2 separate regions of the Homo sapiens genome follow, and region 2 is linked to region 1. Evidence: fine-mapped expression QTL. A gene starts in region 1. The other region holds a variant in brackets. All regions are shown on one strand. Distances are from middle to middle. Region 1 holds the start of PCGF5 (polycomb group ring finger 5). Region 2 overlaps PCGF5 (polycomb group ring finger 5).

Region 1 (5,431 bases):
CACTCCTAAGTGCCATCTAGACAGTTATTTCCCTCCCTCTCCTCATCCATTCTTCCCTTTCTTTCTTCCTTGTTTAACAACAACAAAAAAAGTTAATCTGTGTGTTTTTTCTTTAGACATAGTCTCGCTCTTGTGCCCCAGACTAGAGTGCAATGGCGCGATCTTGGCTCACTGCAACCTCCACCTCCCAAGTTCAAGTGATTCTCCTGCCTCAGCCTCCCTAGTAGCTGGGATTACAGGCACCTGCCACCAAGCCTGGCTAATTTTGGTATTTTTAGTAGAGACAGGATTTCACCATGTTGGCCAGGCTGGTCTTGAACTCCTGACCTCAGTTGATCTGCCCGCCTTGGCCTCCCAAAGTGCTGGGATTACAGGCGTGAGCCACCGTGCGCAGCCCTAATCTGTTTCTTACCAGACCTCCCTTAAGTTCTGGGACTTGAGAAGTACTCTCAAGAGGTATTAAAGAAAACTGAAGCTGACACCTTTGTTTTTGTCTTGGCTCTACCAGAATCAGCTCTGTAATTATGAATTCACCACGTCTCAGGATCTTAGTTTCTACATCTATAAAATGAGAAAGCTGAAGTACATTATTGATAAGGGGACTCCCAGCTATGATTCCTTTATCCTGCCTTTTTTTTTCCCCTGGTCCTATATCCAGTTGCTTCCAGGCCTTTGTTTACTTGAGGGTCCCACTGGTACTTGAGATTTGTTATCAGAGCTACCCCCTCATGTTGTAGCTTCCGTCATTTGTCCTCTGCCCCCACTGGCAGTACCAAGGGACTAGACTAGGATAAGTAACTGGTAAGGAGCCCCAGGGGAGAAGGAGAGGCAGCACAGCAGCTGAAAGTCCCATGTTTTAATACTTACAATCTGCATACACATCACACAGGAAAGTTGCCATTTCACAACACTCCCTCTTACCATTACTTTTGTTATTATTCTTATTTTATTATTATTATTGAGACAGAGCCTTGCTCTGTCTCCCAGGCTAGAATGCAGTGGTGCGATCTCGGCTCACTGCAACTTCCACCTCCTAGGTTCAAGCGATTCTCCTGCCTCTGCCTCCTGAGTAGCTGGGACTACAGGCGCATGTCACCATGCCCGGCTGATTTTTGTTTTAGTAGAGATGGGGTTTCGCCATATTGGCCAGGCTGGTCTCAAACTCCTGACCTCATGATCCGCCCACCTCGGCCTCCAGAAGTGCTAGGATTACAGGCATGAGCCACCGTGCCAGGCCTATTATTATTTTTTTAACCAGACAAATGTTTGAGTTTTTAAACTTGTTTTTATTTTGTGTATGTGTGCATTTTTTTAAATTGGGGTGGGAGAGATGGAATGGTTGCTGAAGAAGGCAGAGGCGAAACCACAGAACACTTAACTGCAAACTATTGCTGCCTCTCCAGACACAAAGCACAGATTGCCTTATAAAAGTTGTAGTTCTCCCTCATCCCAAGTCCATTCTGGCAACCCCACCTCCACATTCATCCTCAGGTACTGCTGTATCACATGTTTGTGACCCCTTCCTTCATTGCTAACATATGTCATCCTAAAACCCGCCTTCAAGCTCGTTTCCTTCAGGAATACTGATTAACCGCACTTGTGATAGGTCACCAATCACATTTAAGCCCCCTGGACTCCACTGTTATTCTTTTAAAACATATTTAAAATAGTTTCAGACACAAAATAGGAACATACCAAGTCTTTTTTATATATTGTGGTATATATACAGTAATATCCTCCAATGCATATTTTAAACACACTAGAAGTAGTGTGATTTTTCACATACTGTTCTGTTTAGTCTCTGAAATGAAAGATATGAAGCATAAAGAGTAATCCTACTGCCATGAAGTCATTTGACCTCACTTGTTTTCTCTTACTCATTGTGATTGCTGCGACTTATGAAGTTGATCCCAGCTTGGACATTGGCATGTATGATTTTGGAAAATGGTTCTTTAAAGGACTATACGAATGTGGTCATTTAAAGCTGTTTCAGAAAATGTATTGCTCCTGCTGTGATATTAGAAATGGCAATTTTTAAACATGTCAAAGTTTGATTATAAAATGGATAGTTTAAAAAGCTGCCTTGGTCTACTGCTTGATGCATTTTAAATTTGAAATGGATCTTTGAACACTTGTATGGCTGCTGGACTAGCGGTTGTTAAGTTTGTTGGTTTGCCACTTAGAGTCATCTATCACTTTAGTAAGAAGTTAACGCCTATCAGTTGGAGAAAAAGCAAATATTTTGCATTGACAGTCTCCCCTACCCTCTATTATTGTCATTTTCTTAAGCCATCACTGCTCTGGCTTCTAGAATACACATTTTTGAATGAAGGTTTTTGCAGTGAATGGTCTCTTGTAGATCTCAAAGTCCACTAGAAAGAGTACTGGGTTTTTGTTTGTTTTGAACGTTGCAAACAGTAATGCTTCTTTACCACTCACCCTCCCCCCACCCTCAACCTCCACAACGTTCCCGTTTGCTTATAGTTGTCAACGACCATGATCTCTGGACCCACACTACAGTAACAAGTTTGTCAGTCATTTTCAGATAAGGTGCAAATCAAGGGATGGCTTTGTCCCCACTTCGGCGCAGGTGGGACAGACTTGGGGAAGACGCAGCTGAAGAGACAAATTCTCAGGGTGCGTCAGTCTCATCACTGACCGTTGCTTTTAAACCCTCCAGGGAAAATATGCCAGTCATTGTTATGATGTAAACAACCGAAGGGGTGGACGGTGAGGATAAGAAGAACCGAGATAATATTTGGCCAGAGCTACGTGTAGCACAGGGAGCCAGGGCGGCAGCTGCACCTGCGAGCAGCGCAGGCGGCAGGCGCGGCCTCCGGGCGTGGTGGTGGGCGTGGCCGGGCGGCGGGGGCGTGGCCGGGCGGCGGGGCGGGCGGTGCCGCCGGTTGGAAGTGGGTGGAGTTGCCCTTGGAGGCGGCACCGGACCTGGGCCCCGAGGCCCGCCGCGCCCTGTCGGGCCTGAGCCGAGTGGCCCCACAGAGCCGGCGCGCTCCCGCCTGCAGGGGGAGAGCAGACGGGGCGCGGGGACCGGCCAGGCCGCGGCGGGTGCTGTTTCTGTTTCACTTTCCTTCACTCTGAGGCCGGCGCGCTGGCGGGCGAGGAGCGGCGGCGGTGGCGGCCGCTGGGTAGGTACCGGGCGGGCTGGGGAGCTGCAGGGACGCCAGACTCCTCACCCAAGTTTGCGCCTCAGGCGAGAGCGACACCTCCAGACACCTGCCCTGGCCGGCCCAGCCTGGAGCCGGGAGGGCCCTTCGGGTGCAGGGGGCTACCGACCCGGGCGGGGGCTTCGGAGCTGTGCCTACCTCGGCGGGGAGAGCGGCCGGCTGCGGACGCCGGCCCCGGGAAAGGCTGCTCGCTCTCCCCGGCCTGAGCAGCGCGCCCGCGGGGCCTGGGCCCGCGCACCTGCCGGGCGGGCGCGGCTGTGCTGGGACCCCACAGGGCTGTACCGCTGGGTCCTGCCGGAGAACGCAGAAAAGTTCCCCCTTGCCCCCGCCCCGTCATTGCAAGTTCTTGCTTCCCTTAACTGTCTTGGTCACAGGGCTCTGTGCCTTAGGATCTTAGTACCACCCCAGGTCGGGACCGTGCATTTCCTCTTCCAGAGGACTTTCTCTTACTTTGGAGTTTCATGGCAAACCTGTGGGAAAGGCAAGGCAGTTAATCCCAACTTATAGAGGAGGAAGCCGAGACCCAGGCTCAGATATGAAACGGTTTGCTGAAGGTCATACAGGGGTAAGGGCCAGAACCCTGATTCCCTGTCTTTTAATTATGCTTGCTTTCTGTTACACGCACGAATACGGTTTCCCAAGAGGATAGGATGATTACACGTAGAGCCTATTCCCTGCACATTCGCAGTGGGTATGTGTTGATGGAATGCCTTTTACCTTTCCGGTTGCTTTATATTTACCAATGAGTTAACAGCTAAGATGGGGGAAAGTTCCTGTTTATAGAATGCACTTAGGAAAATCAACACCTTTCATGTTGTGTTTTCTGAGAGGATACATATTTTACAGTTAAAAAAAAAAAAAAACCTGAGACAGGAAAGTAGCATTATCCAGGTTATATATCTACTAAATATGACCAGTTTCTATTGAAGAGTTTTTGGTCTAACAAAGAAGGTAAAGAATGAACGTAACTATAAATCAAAATAAAAGGCAAATGTAATAGGAAAGAAGTAAGCATTAAAAACTAGGGAAAGATTGCACTGAGAATAGCATTGGAGAAGGGCTTGAAGGATAGGTGGCATGCAGACAGAGGAGAGAAAGGGCGTGTTGGATAGAGTGCTTAGAACCTGCAGAGGAGACGGTGGGAGAGGAGTGATCCCTTCAGGTTGAAGAAAGTTGTTGAAGGGTATATTAAGGTTAACCTGTAGAAGGTCTTATGTGACAGAATGGGAAACATTTTTCTGTTTGTAAAGAGAAGACACTGACATTCGTTGATAAGAAGACCCAACCAAGTGTCACAAAATAAAATGTGCCTCGTAGCAGAATATAAGATGGACTGCAGGTGGAGAGGTGATATACAAGTAGAGCAGCCGGGCATGGAATAGCAGAGGATATCAACTTGGTTTGACTCGTAACTGGATGAAGGGTTAAAAATGGAAATGGGGAACATTTTGATAGGGAGGATAATTACTTAAGTTTTTAATCTTTTAACTTGTATTGGCAGGGACTCCTAATAGAGCAGTCAAGCAGATAGTTAAAATGCATTAGTGAAGAGGTAAAGATATCAAACTGTAGTTAATAGCTTTGGGTGTCATTAGTATAGAGGTGGTAGTTGAGGTTCCAGGACTGGATGAATTTGTCATTATTCTGAATTATAGCAGATTTGCAAGTTAATGATACAATGAAGGATATGTTCTATTCACCTATTCACCCAATTGGGAACATGTAACACTTGCTGTTAATAGAATGACATTAATACATTATGAGGAATTTGACGCTTTTTTCTCTCATCTTTTTGAAATGATTTTGGAAACAGACATGGGAAAGCGGAACCACCAAAAGGAGTGATGATCAACGATCTCATGATAAATCTGGATGCTAGTTCTCATGCCTCAGGACATCCTACTGGGAACGACACACCAGCTCCTGGGATCAGACTTTCATCTACTTAGGACCCCTCTTTGCCCAGACTACTAAAGCCAGTCTTCACTAGCCACGAATGGCTACCCAAAGGAAACACTTGGTGAAAGATTTTAATCCTTACATTACCTGCTATATCTGTAAAGGGTATCTGATCAAGCCAACAACAGTGACGGAATGCCTCCATACATGTAAGTATTCTTTTAGGTTATTATACCTATCAAAGTTTATATGTACATTTTGTTCTTTTAAAATTGCCATGTTTTGTTTTTATCTATGTTGTAACTTTTAAGAAATGAGTATTCTAATAATTATTTTAACTTTGAATT
Region 2 (5,000 bases), 38 kb after region 1:
TGTAAGTAGTTGTTAATACTATATTATTTTTATTATTGTTATTTTTATTGTTTTTAAAAATATTTTTGATCTGTGATTGCTTGAATTCACAAATGCAGGACTGCAGTTACAGAGAGCTGATTGTTTGACCCATACACAGGAAAAGAAGCAGTCAATAGAAACTGTCGCTGAGGAAGCCCAGACATTGTACTTATTAGGCATAGATTTGAAATTATCTATTTAAATATGCACAAAGAACTAAAACCATGGTCTGGGCACTATATGAAAATACAAGAATGATCTCACCAAATACAGAATATTAAATGTCTTTTAATATTCTGGAGTTGAAAAGTATAGCAACAGAAATGAAAATTTTACTGGTGAGGCTCAACAGCAGACTTGAGCCAAAGAAAAAGAACCTGTAAAATTGAAGTTAAATGAATTGAGATTATTCAGTCTGAGAAACAGAAAAATAGAATGAAGAAAAATGAACAGGTCCTCAGAGAGCTGTAGACACCATCAAGCTTACCAGCATACACATAATGGAAGTTCCAGAAGGAGAGGAAATGGAGAAAAAAGGACAGAAAGTATATTTGAAGAAATAATGGCCCCTAAAAACCAACCAAATTTGATGAAAAATATTAAACATTTGAGAAGCTTAACAATCTTCAGGTATGATAAATTCAAAGAAATTCATACCTAGGCACATCATAATCAAACTATTCAAAGACAAAGAGAGAATCTTGAAAGCAACAATATAAAAGTGACTCATGCACAAAGGACCCCCAGTAGGGTTAGTAGCTGATTTCTCACCAAAAGCTGTGGAGGATAGAAGGCAATAGGATAATATATGCAGAGTGCTCAAAGAAAGAAAACTGTCAACTAGTTAAGTCTATATTCATCAAAAATCTATAGCCTTCCAAAAGGAAGGAGAAATTAAGATATTCCCATGACCTTGGATTTGGCAGTGGATTCTTAGAAATGACACCAAAAGCACAAGCAACAAAAGAAAAGAAATAGATAAATTGTAAATGTAAAACTTCATTAAAATGTAAAACTCTTGTGTATCAAAGGACACTTAAAGTGAAAAAAGTTACAGAACGGGAAAAAATATTTGCAAATCATGTCTGATAAGCCTTTAATGTACAGGTATATGAAGAACTCTTATAAATCAACAATAAAAAGATGGCCCAATTTGGAAAAAGGCAAAAGGCTTGAATAAACATTCCTCTAAAGAAGTTATAAAAATGACCAATAAGCACAGGAAAAGTTGCTAAATATCACTAGTCACTGGGGCTCTGCAAATCAAAACCACAATGAGATATCATTTTATACCTACTAGGATGGCCAGAAATTTTTTTTAAGGAAAATAATAAATGTTAGAGAATGTGGACAAATTGAAACCTTATACGTTGCTAGTGGGAAGGTGAAAGTGCAGCTACTGTGGAAAACACTTTAGCAGTTCCTCAAAGAGTTGACGTGGTAATTCCACTTCTAAGTATGTGATCATATCCAGTAGTCCCCCCCTTATCTGTGGAGCATATGTTCCAAGACCCCCAGGGGATGTTGCAACCACAGATAGTACCAAATAATCCTGTATATACTGGTTTTTTTAATTTGATAACTGAGATAGCTAAGTCACTAATGGACAGGTGGCCTATACAGCATGAATATGCTGGACAAAGGGAGGATTCACAACCTGGGCAGGACGGAGTAGGATGGTGCAAGATTTTAACATGCTATGCAGAATTGTATGCAGCTTAAAACTTATGAATTGTTTATTTCTAGAATTTTCCATTTTGTATTTTTGGACAGTGATATATTGACTGGGTAACTGAAATCAAGGAAAGTGAAACTGCAGATAAGGAGGGACTACTGTATAAAAGAATTGAAAACATGTTCACACAAAATCTTGTATATGTATATTCATAATAGCATTATTTGTAATAGCCAGAAAGTGAAAACAACCCAAATGTCTATCAGCTGATGAATGGAAAAGCAGAATGAAAGGAAATGTGATACTATTCAGTCATAAACTGCAATGAAGTACTGATACATGCTACAAAATAGATGAATCTTGAAAACTTTATGCTAAGTGCAAGAAGCCAGACACAAAAGGTCACATATTATGTGATTCCATTTATACGAAATATCCAGACAAGGATAAAGACAAAGTAGATTAGGGTTGTCAGGGGATGGGAGGAGGGAAGGTTGCGGAGTGACTGTGAATAGATTTGGGTTACTTTTGAGGATGATGAAAATGTTTTGGAATTAGATCATAGTAATGGTTGTACAACTTTGCGAATAGTATAAAAACTATAATTAATCTGTGAAAGATTGTAAGTAGTGATAC[A/C]AACATCATTTCTGGAGATTCTTCCTAATTTCTTGACAGATGAAAAATACACAAATTAAGAGTCTTCCAGTACAGGTTGAGTATCCCTTATCCAAAATGGTTGGGACCAGAAGTTTTTTGGGTTTTGGAATATTGGCATTGTATATACTTACAGTTGAACCTCCCAAATCTGAAATGAATGAGTGTCATGTCAGCCCTCAGTTTCAGATTTTGGGACATTTCAGATTTCAGACTGGGGATGATCAACCTACACCCTTATATTCTTCTCTGACTTAACTGGGGCTTGTAAAAATGTGCTAATGATTCTTTGTAAGCTGTTTGGGGCAAGAAGAAAATTGACAGGAAACCTTGGGATAGTTGAGAAGGTGAACAGATAACAGAGAAGATAGACGTGTACATTTATCCCTTTGTTTTCATGCTGTCTAGAATATCCGTCTTCACATTTGAAATGGGTAGAATATGTGTTGATTTAGATGTAACTTTTAACTTCTGTTTTCTTTTAATGGATATTTTATCATCTGTATTGTGACCAGGTTGTTATTTGTTAATTTATTTCTGTTGGTCTTTGCCAGGAAATATGTTTTGCTAGGAAAACATTTGCTAGGAAATAAACATTGACTGAACAGTTGTGACTTAGTGATGCTGACCTCATTTCCTATACATACAAATAGGAGTAATATCTTTAAAAGATTCTATTGTTGTTTTGTGTGTTTTAGTATTCTGATAACTTTTGAGGTTGTGGAATGTAATTTTGTTTCACATATTGGTTCGTGTTTATTATGTCTACAACCTCATTTTACTTCATTTTCAGCTTGGGTGTCCCTTCTGGATTGGTTCTTATATTTTAGTGATAGTCAAGCTTAAAGAGTGAATTAGTACTGCTCTGCACATTTTACAAATGAGACACATCAGGCACAGAGAAGTTTGTTCTTCCAGTAAAGTACTGGCACAGCCTATCAGACACTATTCTCCCCAACACAAGGTCCACACTATGCAACTTCTAATTTCTGGGGCATGCTGTGGCCTAACCAGCCTCTCTCTGTTGAACCCTATGGCTCCTCAGGGTCCCATTTGACATCACTGCTCTTTCTGAAATTATTTAAAAGCTGTGATACCATGTTTTAGAAAATGTCCCTCATGTTTCAGAAGTTATACTTTATAATCTTCACAGAATTGGAAAAAACTAAAGTTCATATGGAACCAAAAAAGAGCCCGCATTGCCAAGTCAATCCTAAGCCAAAAGAACAAAGCTGGAGGCATCACGCTACCTGACTTCAAAGTATTCTACAAGGCTACAGTAACCAAAACAGCATGGTACTGGTACCAAAACAGGGATATAGACCAATGGAACAGAACAGAGCCCTCAGAAATAATGCCGCATATCTACAACTATCTGATCTTTGACAAACCTGACAAAAACAAGAAATGGGGAAAGGATTTCCTATTTAATAAATGGTGCTGGGAAAACTGGCTAGCCATATGTAGAAAGCTGAAACTGGATCCCTTCCTTACACCTTATACAAAAATTAAGATGGATTAAAGACTTACATGTTAGACCTAAAACCATAAAAACCCTAGAAGAAAACCTAGGCAATACCATTCAGGACATAGGCATGGGCAAGGACTTCATGTCTAAAACACCAAAAGCAATGGTAACAAAAGCCAAAATTGACAAATGGGATCTAATTAAACTAAAGAGCTTCTGCACAGCAAAAGAAACTACCATCAGAGTGAACAGGCAACCTACAGAATGGGAGAAAATTTTTGCAACCTACTCATCTGACAAAGGGCTAATATCCAGAATCTGCAATGAACTCCAACAAATTTACAAGAAAAAACAACCCCATCAAAAAGTGGGCAAAGGGTATGAACAGACACTTCTCAAAAGAAGACATATATGCAGCCAACAGACATGTGAAAAAATGCTCATCGTCACTGGCCATCAGAGAAATGCAAATCAAACCACAATGAGATACCATCTCACACCAGTTAGAATGGCCATCATTAAAAAGTCAGGAAACAACAGGTGCTGGAGAGGATGTGAAGAAATAGGAACACTTTTACACCGTTGGTGGGACTGTAAACTAGTTCAACCATTGTGGAAGTCGATGTGGCGATTCTTCAGGGATCTAGAACTAGAAATACCATTTGACCCAGCCATCCCATTACTGGGTATATACCCAAAGGATTATAAATCATGCTGCTATAAAGACACATGCACACATATGTTTATTGTGGCACTATTCACAATAGCAAAGACTTGGAACCAACCCAAATGTCCAACAACGATAAACTGGATTAAGAAAATGTGGCACATATACACCATGGAATACTATGCAGCCATAAAAAATGATGTGTTCGTGTCCTTTGTAGGGACATGGATGAAGCTGGAAACCATCATTCTCAGCAAACTATCACAAGGACAAAAAACCAAACACCGCATGTTCTCACTCATAGGTGGGAATTGAACAATGAGAACACATGGACACAGGAAGGGGAACATCACACTCTGGGGACTGTTGTGGGGTGGGGGAGGGGGGAGGGATAGCAGTAGGAGATATACCTAATGCTAAATGACCAGTTAATGGGTGCAGCACACCAACATGGCACATGTATACATATGTAACAAACCTGCACGTTGTGCACATGTACCCTAAAACTTAAAGCA

What was found. PIP is the estimated chance that this variant, and not a neighbour inherited with it, causes the effect.
Region 2: its variant is the best candidate, but not a certain one, in a credible set for the expression of PCGF5 in whole blood (INTERVAL, PIP 0.67).

The regions. Positions count from the first base shown.
Region 1 is chr10:91,217,691-91,223,121 of GRCh38, forward strand. PCGF5 (polycomb group ring finger 5) reads left to right here and starts at 2,973. Exons shown (of 10, transcript NM_032373.5): 1 at 2,973-3,146; 2 at 4,999-5,293. The coding sequence starts at 5,182. RefSeq lists an enhancer at 2,513-2,582 and silencers at 2,773-3,082, 3,153-3,612, 3,302-3,596.
Region 2 is chr10:91,255,956-91,260,955 of GRCh38, forward strand. All of the region lies in intron 6 of PCGF5 (polycomb group ring finger 5), which reads left to right. Among named protein-coding and RNA genes, the nearest start is that of PCGF5, 38 kb to the left of the region's middle. The variant A/C (reference allele first, on the strand shown) is at 2,333.